2 linked regions of the Homo sapiens genome follow. The protein of the gene in region 1 interacts with the protein of each later gene in a pairwise test. Each region holds a gene or a part of one and is shown on either strand. Other genes may lie near its edges. The genes, in order: HGH1 and TTC4.

What was found.
Region 2: the proteins of HGH1 (region 1) and TTC4 interact in binary tests that used the Homo sapiens proteins (3 or more experiments, as listed by UniProt).

Annotation. Positions count from the first base shown.
Region 1 is NC_000008.11:144,132,728-144,141,020, forward strand, and holds HGH1 (protein HGH1 homolog), read left to right. Parts: upstream 1-5,046; 5' UTR 5,047-5,108; coding exon 5,109-5,701; intron 5,702-5,779; coding exon 5,780-5,880; intron 5,881-5,987; coding exon 5,988-6,086; intron 6,087-6,281; coding exon 6,282-6,373; intron 6,374-6,461; coding exon 6,462-6,584; intron 6,585-6,660; coding exon 6,661-6,825; 3' UTR 6,826-8,124; downstream 8,125-8,293.
Region 2 is NC_000001.11:54,739,861-54,743,157, forward strand, and holds the end of TTC4 (tetratricopeptide repeat protein 4), read left to right. Parts: intron 1-1,550; coding exon 1,551-1,653; 3' UTR 1,654-2,797; downstream 2,798-3,297.

The sequences.
Region 1 (8,293 bases):
GTGGTGAAACCCTGTCTCTATTAAAAAAAAATACAAAAATTAGGCCAGGCGCCATGGCTCACGCCTGTAATCCCAGCACTTTGGGAGACCAAGACAGGCAGATCACGAGGTCAGGAGATTGAGACTATCCTGGCCAACATGGTGAAAACCTGTCTCTACTAAAAAAAATACAAAAAATTAGCTGGGCGTGGTGGCAGGCGCCTGTAGTCCCAGCTACTCGGGAGGCTGAGGCAGGAGAATGGCGTGAATGTGGGAGGCGGAGCTTGCAGTGAGCCGAGACTGCGCCACTGCACTCCAGCCTGGGCAACAGAGCGAGACTCTGCCTCAAAAAAAAAGAAAAAAAATACAAAAATTAGCTGGGCATGGTGGTGGGTGCCTGTAATCCCAGCTACTCTGGAGGCTGAGGCAGGAGAATCCACTTGAACCCAGGAGGCGGAGGTTACAGTGAGCCAAGATCATGCCACTGCACTCCAGCCTGGTGAAAGAGAGAGGCTCCATCTAAAAAAAAAAAAATTAGCCAGGTATGGTGGCACACATCTGTGGTCCCAGCTACTCAGGAGGCTGAGGTGGGAGGATCACTTGAGCCTGAGAGGTGGAGGCTGCAGTGAGCCAAGATCGCACCACTGCACTCCAGCCTGGGCGATAGAGCGAGACTCCACCTCAAAAAATAAATAAATAAATAAATAAATAAAAGTTCCCGGCCAAGTGTGGTGGCTCACGCCTGTAATCCCGGGGGGGCCGAGGAGGGTGGATCACAAGGTCAGGAGATCAAGACCATCCTGGCTAACACAGTGAAACCCTGTCTCTACTAAAAATACAACAACAACAAAAAACACAAAACAAAATTAGCCGGGCGTGCTGGCAGGCGCTTGTAGTCCCAACTACTCGGGAGGCTGAGGCAGGAGAATGGTGTGAACCCAGGAGGCGGAGCTTGGGTGAGCCAAGATCGCACCACTGCACTCCAGCCTGGGCGACAGAGCCAGACTCCATCTCAAAAAAAAAAAAAAAGTTCCCTTCTGCTTCACATACTGTGTTACCTCTGTAAATAGGTATATGCCTTTGGTTTACTTAATATCTAGTGATTCTTGGTTTTTGTTCACATTCATTAGTGACATCAGTTGATCAGTTTGGGTGACATCATGGGTTTCCTCAGTATTCAGGAAGGTATTTTTCTCTCCTAAACAGAGAGTTGTCTGTGGGCTCATGGGTGACTGCCAGAAAGCCAACAGGCTGCAAATAGGGTTGCCAGATAAAATACAGGATACCCAGTTAAATTCGAATAGAGGATACGGTATTTACTATTTGTCTGAAATTCAAAATTTACTGTCCAGGATACAGTTAAATTTGAATTTCAGACAAACAACAAATACTTTTTGGTATCAACGTGTCCCAAATGTTACATGGGTGCCGTCTTTTTAACAGCTTTGATATATAGTTCAAATACAATCAACCCATTTAAAGTGTACAATTTAAATGTTTTAGTACAATTTAAATGTTTAGAATATTTACAATTTAAATATTCACAGTTGTGCAACTACCAGCATAATCTAATTTTACAACATTTTCAACATCCAAAAAAGAAAGCCCAAACCCATTGTCTCAGTCAGCTCAGGTTGCCATAACAAAATACCATAGACTAGGTGGTTTAAACAATAGAAATGTATTTTCTCACATTTTTGGAGACTAGGAAGAAGTCCAGGATCAAAGTACTGACAGATTTGGTTTTTGGTGAGTGCCCTTCCACTTCCTTAGAGGCCCCATCTCTAAACACAGTCACACTGGGGTTAGGACTTCAGCATATGCATTTTTTGGAGGGACACTGTTCGGTCCATAGCACCCACTAACAGTCACTCCTACTCCCCTTACCCTACCCTTCCCTTGACAACTGCTAATTTACTTTCTGTCTCTATGAACTGACTATTCCGGACGTGTCTTATAAATGGGATCATAAAATATGTGATCTCTTGTGATTTCTTTCTTTCATTTAGCGTAAGATTTTGGAGTTCATATGTGTTGCAGCATATGTCAGTACTTTGCTCCTTTTTATGGCTGAATAATATCCCTTTGCATGGATTTATCTGTTTATTTTTCCATTCGTCAGTTGACAGACATTTGGGTTGTTTCCACCTTTTGACCACTATGAATAATGCTGCTTGTACACGTTCACGTTTCTGTGTGGTTTTCAGTTTTCATTTCTCTTGACTAGATGCCTGGGAGTGGAATTGCTGGGTTATATGATAACTCTGTTTGCGTTTTTTTGATTTTTTTTTTTTTTTGAGATGGAGTCTGGCTCTGTCATCCAGGCTGGAGTGCAGTGGCACCGTCTTGGCTCACTGCAACCTCTGCCTCCTGGGGTCAAGTGAGTCTCCTGCCTTAGCTTCCTGAGTAGCTGGGATTACAGGCGCGTGCCATCGTGCCTGGCTAATTTTTGTATTTTTAGTAGAGATGGGGTTTCATCATGCTGGTCACTCTGGTCTCGAACTCCTAACCTTGTGATCGACCAGCCTCAGCTTCCCAAAGTGCTGGGGTTATAGGCGCGAGCCACCATGCCCAGCAAATGTCTGACTTTTTGAGGAGCTGACAAAATGTTTTCCACAGTGGCGGCTCCATTTTACAGTCTCACCAGCAGTGTATGTGGGTTCCAATTTCTCCACATCCTCATCAACAGTTGTTTAATCTGTGTTTTTGGCCGGGTGCAGTGGCTCACGCCTGTAATCCCAGCACTTTGGGAGGCCAAGGTGGGTGGATCATCTGAGGTCAGGAGTTCAAGACCAGCCTGACCAACATGGAGAAACCCCGTCTCTACTAAAACTACAAAAAAAAATTAGCCAGGCGTGGTGGTGCATGCCTATAATCCCAGCTACTCGGGAGGCTGAGGCAGGAGAATTGCTTGAACCTGGGAGTGGAGGTTCCAGTGAGCTGAGATCGTGCCATTGAACTCCAGCCTGGGCAACAAGAGCAAAACTCCATCTCAAAAAAAAAAAGAAATTCTGTGTTTTTGATCATAGCCATCCTAGTGGGTTTTGCACCAATAATGTCTGCTACACCCTACTTTGCAAAACCATTATGACTATATATATGAACACTATGCAAGGTTTGCTCTCAGGGAAGCTTTGGAAAGGACCCGTCCAAGCAAGGCACCATGAAGCTTAAATTTTATTACCTTCCTTTAAGTACTGTTTTCTTTTTTTTTTTTTTGAGACAGTCTCACTCTGTCACCCAGGATGGAGTGCAGTGGCACAATCTCCACTCACTACAACCTCCCCCTACCAGGTTCAAGCAATTCTCCTGCCTCAGCTTCCCAAGTAGCTAGGACTACAGGCACACGCCACCATGCCCGGCTAATTTTTATATTTTTAGTAGAAATGGGTTTCACCATGTTGGCCAGGCTGGTCTTGAACTCCTGGCCTCAAGTGATCCACATGCCTTGGCCTCCCAGAGTGCTGAGATTGCAGGTGTGAGCCACCGCACCCGGCCTAATTTACTGTTATTTATTTTATTTTTGAGATGGAGTCTCCCTCTGTTGCCCAGGCTGGGGTGCAGTGGCGCTATCTTGGCTCAATGCAACTTCTTCCTCCCAGGTTCAAGCAATTCTCCTGCTTCAGCCTCTCGAGTAGGCGGGACTAGAGGAGTGTGCCACCACCCCCGGTTACCTTTTGTATTTTTTTTAGTAGAGAGGGGTTTCACCATGTTGGCCAGGCTGGTCTCAAACTGCTGACCTCAGGTGATCTACCTGCCTTGGCCTCCCAAAACGCTGGGATTATAGGCATGAGCTACCACACCTGGCCTAAGTACTGCTATCTTGAAGGAGGCAGACAGAAACCAAGCAGTCATGGGTGGCGGGTGGGCTGAGTCTCTGTAAGTTGCCCAGGGAAGATAGCTCTGACAAATAATTAGAAGTTGCCAGCCTTGTGTACAGCTGAGAAAAGAGCATTCCAGGCAGAAGAGACAGCAAGTGCAAAGACCCTGAGGCCAGAATGGCCACCAAAGTTGTTTGGTTCCGTGTCCTGAGCTACCAGCTTGGCAGATGGCTGGTGCCCAAAAAATGCTGGAGTGAGGGAATGCCCTTCTTTTGCCCTCCCTTCCTCCCAGTCTGTGTGTCTCTAGAAGGTTGCTGCTCCGCCCACAGTGGAGGACACGTGAAGAACTGGAGTCCTTTTCTGGGGCAGACTCCAATACTGGGACAGAGAAACTCTTCTGCCACGACCATGGAACTGGGAGGTCCCAGTGTCTTTCTTTCCCAACTGCTCTGAGAAAATCGGCCAGTGGCAGGTGGAAATGATATGGAGCCACAGAGCAGCAGGGCAGCAGAGAGGGAGAGCAATGGTAGGGTAGACAGTACAAGGCTCCAGAGAGCTCCTGGATAAAGCAGTGCCGGAAGCTGGCTCCCTCCAAACCTCCATTTACAAATTTTCTCTTCGTGCAAGTCAGTTTGAGTTGGGTTTGTCACTTGCGACTGAAGACGTCCTGACAAATGCCCCAAAGCTACCAGCTCAGAGATGCCCAGAGGCCTCTCCAAAGCTGCCTCCTCAGGTCCCCACTGGGGCCCTGTGTTGTCCTGTCCCTGGACGGCCTGAGCTTCTCGGTGGCCGTGCCAGCCTGGACAAGAGCAGGCCTTCCTTCCGAGAGGCCCGTGGCCACTCCCCCATTCAGCCCTTCTCTGACCCGACAGCCTAGTCGAGGAGCCGGGGCGCGGGCCTCAGACCCTCAGGGCCCACGAGAAGCCAGGGCCGGCTGACCAGGTTCGGCGTGGCCAGCGCCCAGTGGGAAGCACTGGCCGACCTAGCCGAGACTACATGGACGCTTCCAGCGAGTGTGGACGCGGCAGGCGGCCAAATCGCGCCGGGCCTCGGTCCCCATGGCTCGGGACATCACAGCGCTCAGTCTCCAACCTCCGCAGCTTCCGGCCAGACGCCGAGACCCATAACTCCCCGCGCGCGGCCTGGCCCCTCCCCTCCGCACGCCGGTCCCGCCCCTTGAGCCCAGTGCGCAGCCTCGGATTGGCCAGGGCGGCTTTCGCTCCTCTGGTGGGCGGGGTTGCGGGCCACACAGCGGACCCCTAAGCGGACCGCTGGCACCGGTCGGGTGGCAGCAGAGTGTCGCTCGACATGGGGGAGGCCGGGGCTGGCGCTGGCGCCTCGGGAGGGCCGGAGGCAAGCCCGGAGGCAGAGGTGGTGAAGCTGCTGCCCTTCCTGGCGCCGGGCGCGCGGGCGGACCTGCAGGCGGCGGCGGTGCGGCACGTGCTGGCGCTGACTGGCTGCGGACCCGGCCGCGCGCTGTTGGCGGGGCAGGCGGCGCTGCTGCAGGCGCTGATGGAGCTGGCGCCGGCCTCTGCCCCGGCCCGGGACGCCGCCCGCGCGCTCGTGAACTTGGCCGCCGACCCCGGCCTGCACGAGACATTGCTGGCGGCCGACCCCGGGCTGCCAGCGCGCCTGATGGGCCGCGCGTTGGACCCGCAGTGGCCCTGGGCCGAGGAGGCGGCCGCCGCGCTAGCCAACCTCAGTCGCGAGCCGGCGCCGTGTGCAGCGCTCATGGCGGCGCTGGCGGCCGCGGAGCCGGCAGACTCGGGCCTGGAGCGGCTGGTGCGCGCGCTGTGCACGCCCGGCTACAACGCCCGCGCGCCCCTGCACTACCTAGCGCCGCTGCTCTCCAACCTCAGCCAACGCCCTGCGGCGCGGGCCTTCCTACTGGACCCCGACAGGTGAAGCCCAGGGCGCCCGCGCGGGCGGGGAGGGGACGGAAGTTAGGGGGGACGGCCCTAAGTGACACCTCCCAACAGGTGCGTGGTCCAGCGGCTGCTGCCCCTTACCCAGTACCCCGACTCCTCTGTACGCAGGGGCGGGGTGGTGGGGACGCTGCGGAATTGCTGCTTCGAGCACCGTGAGTGGTGGGTGTGGCGGGGGTGCGTTGCCAGGTGTGGGGACTGGACTCCGGGGCTGCTCTGGACCAGTTTCCATTCCCGTCTCCCCACCCTCACCATCCCTCAGGACATCACGAGTGGTTGCTTGGACCTGAGGTGGACATTCTCCCCTTTTTGCTCCTGCCCTTGGCTGGGCCTGAGGATTTCTCCGAGGAAGAGATGGAACGTGAGTGGCTAGTGTGGAGCCTCAGAGTTGGCCGGAGAGGAGGGAGGCCAGTGGAGGGAGAGAGAGGTGTCCAGGCCACAGGCTCCTGAAACTTTGCAGCAGTGAGTTGCTGAGCACAGGTGGGACTTACACAGGCAGAGCCTGGCTCAGCTGCCCAGCCCAGGGACACAGTGGCTCCCACACACTCACCCCTAGGGCTGCCTGTCGACTTGCAGTACCTGCCACCAGACAAGCAGCGAGAACCTGATGCAGACATCCGCAAGATGCTTGTTGAAGCCATCATGCTGGTGAGCAGGAGCCCTGCTGCAATAAGCACCACCCCAACACACACACATGAGCATGCTGACATCTGGGTAACCTCTTCCACCTCCTCAGCTGACAGCCACAGCACCAGGTCGGCAGCAGGTGCGGGACCAGGGAGCCTACCTGATCCTTCGAGAGCTGCACAGCTGGGAGCCGGAGCCCGACGTGCGGACGGCTTGTGAGAAGCTCATCCAGGTTGGTGCAGGGTTGGAGAGGCTGGGGAAGGGGTGTCTGTAGCTGGCCAGCTGCTCACCTGCTTCCCGTCTGGCAGGTGCTTATTGGGGACGAGCCTGAACGTGGCATGGAAAACCTGCTGGAGGTGCAGGTGCCTGAGGATGTGGAGCAGCAGCTGCAGCAGCTGGATTGCAGGGAGCAGGAGCAGTTGGAGCGGGAGCTGGCCCCAGAGCCATGGGTGGAGAGGGCCACACCCACCTGAGGCCCCTGCAGCCGGACACCAGCTCCAGGGTCCCCTTTGCCAGGCTTTCTCAGACCAGGCCTTCCTGCAGCTGTCTGCAGGCCCCCTGGGTCCCCTTGTTCAGAGACTGTGCTCTTCTGAGAAGCAGAGCTACGCTTAGGCTCCAGTAAGGATTGGAGGCACTTTCCAGCCCTGTGCAGTGTTGCTACCAGCAAGAATGAAGGTTGTGCAGAGCAGTACTGTGAGGTAGGCACCGTGACTCGGCTGCCTGTGCAGAAGGTGGAGGTGGCAGGCGGATGGCCAGGGAGCCATGAGAAGACTCTTCCTGGGCACGGCGTGGGGACTGGACAGAAAACCACTGCAAGCCCCAAGGAGCCAGCTGAAGCCTCCCAATCCCCAGGGCACTGCAGAGTCTGGGCAGAGGTGGGCGCATAGGTACAAGTGCTGCTTTGTCAGCCTCACTCCCTGCAGCTCTCAGCTCCCTGTTCCCTGAGACCTGGCCTCAAAGGGCTGACCCAGCCATACGTAGATCCTGGGGTCTTTCTAGGACTGTGCCTCCCTGCTTGACCTATGCTCCAGGACCCTGCCCTCAACCCTTGTCAGCTCCCTAAGTCTTCCTGTTTCCCAGTCTCAGATTGAGTGGGTGCTCTCATTGGCCTCTCTAGCTAGGCCGTCTCCCTGGTCAGCTTCCTTGAGCCTGGGCCACTCCTCCCTGGCCTTCTTACCTCTGCCAAGAGCCTCCAGATGTGCCTGCAGCCTAGTCCCTGCCCAAGCTTCTCCCCCAGCCACCCTCTGCCCCTGTGGTAGAGCCCACTATAGGCCCAGGCGCCTTACGTGCTTCTCCCCTGGACCTATGTGCATCCCTCACCTGCCAGTTATGTGGCTGCCAAGCCCCACAGGCTGTCATGGTGGCTCTTGCCACACTTCCCTTCCTGAGCTGACCTGACCTCACTGCCACCTCTTGCATTGGGATCCTGAGGGCTGGCCCCTGCTCACTGATGGGCCCTCCCAGGCCCGTCAAGCCCTGGTGAAGGAGCTTAGCTTGTCTTCTTGGCAATTCACAATGCCTCACTCCACACCCTAAAACTGGAGCGTCCCCTATGGTCTCCTGCTGTGGCTTGGGTGCCGGGCGTCTCCCGCCTCCAGGATCTCCTCTCACCTGCCCCCATTAAAGCTCTGCCACTCATGCAGGCATGTGTGGACCATGTTTTCCCCTGGCCAGAGCCCCCACCTGCCACTGGAGGCCAGTTGCCCTCTTAGCACTCAGACATCAGCACTGTCTTCACAGAATAAATGCTTTATCTGGCCTTGCCCCACCCACCCACCCTCAGTTTACTGGAGCGCCTCCTGGAGGCGCTCACTCCCAGGCTGGCTGCTACGAGCTCTAGAGGACCAGCTGGGCAGAACCCACCCCTCTTCTGGGGTGCGCTTCTGGAGGCCTGAGCTCAGGGCCCGTATTCTCCTTGGGGATGCCCTGCTGCTGGGGCAG
Region 2 (3,297 bases), on another chromosome or scaffold:
TGATTTTTAAAAATTAAAAAGATTTTAAAAGATGTACAGAATAGGCCGGGTACAGTGGCTCATACCTATAATTCCAGCATTTTGGGAGGCTAAGGCATGAGGATCACCTGAGCTCAGAAGTTAGAGATCATCCTGAGAAACACAGCGAGATCCCGTCTCTATAGAAATCTTTTTTATGGTGTTGTGCACCTGTAGTCCTCGCTATTTGGGAGGCTGAGGCAGGAAGATTGCTTGAGCCCAGCATTTCAAGGCTGCAGTGAGCTATGATCACACCACTGCACTCCAGCCTAGGTGAGAGTGAGACCCCCTCCTCCCACTACCCAAAAAAATTACAGAGTAATGTAAAGATTTGAAGTGTACTGTTCAGTGGTGAGGCCTGAAGTAGGAGGAGGTGGATTAGAGGTTTAGGAGGTAGATTGGATGGGAGCTGGTGTAGTGTTGAGTGATGTGATAGGGGTGTCCAGCTAGTCTTAATGCTTTGGCTTGGTAGGCAGGAAGGAAAGGTTTTTCCAGATCTGATTGATACCTTTGGTGGTGTTTTGCTCTGGTCCCAAATCTCTCTTCTTCTAGTTTTTGGACACATTTTTAGCTGCTCATTTTCTCAGTTGTTAGCAAATTACCCAGAATTCTTTAAAGGCCTGAGTTCTGCCCTACCCCAGAGGAGAAATCTAAATAGAAAGCAGACCGATGCTTGGAGGAAACCCGTTTCATGCTTCTCAGAAAATGTAAATGCTGTTGGAAGTTACTACCTTTAAAATTATTACCATAGGCAAGAGCCTACCCAGGACTGGTTTCTGGCAACTTCAGACCCTAAACTGGGTGGAGCCACGAAATAGGCCCTCTGTCCCAAAGCAGGCCCACTGAGTAATACAACACCCCTATCCCTGGGAGGCCAAAGCCCTCCCTGCCTCTCTAGCCTGCCTGACTCCTTTTGCTTTGTGCCCTAGCCACAGCAAACATTCTGGTTACTTGCACCTCCTGGCTTTTGCTCCCCAACCCCCATCACCACCCCTTCCCCAAATTAAAGCCAAGTTCAGACATGGCATCTTCCAGGAAGCCTTTTTTGATTCCCTTCCTCATAGAGGGAATCGTGCCTCCTTGGGATAATGCTGCGCCTCACAAATGCTTCTGCAGTTGTGCCTTGCTGTCATTAATTGGTTCCTCATCTCCCTCCCCTCCAGGACTGAATTTGAGAACAAAGATGATGGTGTGTGGGTGTTGGTTTTTTAATCTCTGTGTTTTCAGCACAGGGCCTGGCTTACCACTGAATGTTGAATGAATGAATAAAACCATGCTTTATATTTTTATTTCATATTTAGCCACAGACATGCATGATGCCAGAGGACTGGCCTAAAGGTTCTGGCTAGGTTGTAAGGATGAGAATGTCATGCTAATTTGCCAGATTTATGAACAACCACATAACTGTGCTAAACTTGCATTTTCATGTTGACTCCCATCCAGAGGCTCACCTTGCATGTTGTTAGGAAGGTGCATGGATGGTTAAGATTGTAATTAAATTAACACCCTCTCTTTTGTTGTGTTCACGGCAGGTACTTTGTAAAAGCCCTGACACCAGCATTTTTGGTCTGTGTAGGATCCTCTCCTTTTTGCAAGAATTTTCTCCGGGGGAGAAAGGTGTACCAGATACGATGACTAAGCCAGGGCCCCTGGATCTCCTCCCTTACCCTCCTCTGCTGGGAACCTAGCACACCTGAATCAGCTGGACATACTGCTGGAGTCCAGTGCTTTCTTTCCGTCACCCTGGGGATAGTCCTTCCTGGCATCGTGGTGGGGGAGGAGCCTCTGGCTTCCCTAAACTGCAGCCTCTCTGGCTGGTCTTCACTTTCCTCAGTTGATATAAAACTCTGGGTCTTGGCCATGATGTCCTTGGACTCCATCGCTAAAGGGACCATCTGCTGCAGTTACCACAGCAACTGACCTGAGCGGCACCCTGGTCTGTGGAGATGGACTCAGGATCCAGTGACATGATTCTGAACTTTTGTGGAGTTTGACACCTTAGAGAAGCTACCCCTCAAACTGCACATCTACACACAAACAAACAATGCATAGGATTCCAAGGCTTTAAAGCTGAGAGACCCTGGCCTCAAGTTATTTCATGCGCACAGAGGGAAGCCATGTGGGGTTGCTGAAGATGCCTTGAGGTGAAATGGGGGCAGGAAAGCCACATCTTGCTCTGCATTTATAAAGACCGTACAAACTCAGATCCTTGGTACCCCTAAAAAGATTGCCAATTTTCTTCATCTTTGCCATATGGAGGACTGTGACAGACTTTGGACAGTGGCCTCTTGAGTTCCTCTGCAGTTTTGACATTTAGGATTTTGTGTCTTTTAAACTGGAAAATCTTCTAGCATGTTGGGTTGTTACAGAGTATATTTTTGTCTGCAGCTGTTTGTTGCCCCATTCCTAAGAGGAGTTTATCCATCCTGACTTGTAGCTGTGTGACTTCTTGCAGTGCCCCCACCCCATCCCCCCGGGAGAGTGTACTTCCCTGCTCCCAATGCAGAGGGATATGCACAGGCATGAGCTGTCCTGCGTCTGACAGAAGCCTGAAGAGTCATGTGTGGTTGGCCTGTGCTCTTCCCTCTGCTGTGAGAACACATTTCCCACAGAGGAGCCGTTCCATGGAGCCGAGCTACAGCAGCTGGCCTGCAGCCACTGAGTGTCACAGCAATGAGAGAGCAATGTTTGCTGTAGTAAGCAGTGAGATTTAGGGGTTGGTTGTTACTATAGCAGAGCTAATACATGAGTAAACTGAAGCCAGCTGCTGTCCTTAAAAGTGGACTAATTTGAGGCTGGGTGCGGTGGCTCACGCCTGTAATCCCGACACTTTGGGAGGCGGAGGTGGGTGGATCACCTGAGGTCAGGAGTTCGAGACCAGCCTGACCAACATAGCAAACCCCGTGTCTACTAAAAATACAAAAATTAGCCAGGCGTGGTGGTAGGCATCTGTAATCCCGGCTACTCGGGAGGCTGAGGCAGGAGAATCACTTGAACCCGGGGGGCGGAGGTTGCAGTGAGCCAAGATCGTGCCATTGCACTCCAGCCTGGGCAACAAGAGCAAAACTCTGTCTCAAACACAAACCAAAAAAAAAGTAGACTAATTTAGAGTTTTGTGTAGTGTGCCTCACTGTCTTTGAAAGGAAATTGGCTGTGGAATATTTACAAAGAACCATGCAGCTTCCAGGTGCCGGTCCCTGTCTGTGGCTTGTGGCTAGGAAGCTGAAGTTCAGCCTCCTTCCTACTCCTGGTTTTGGCCACTTAAGGACCTGAGGACCA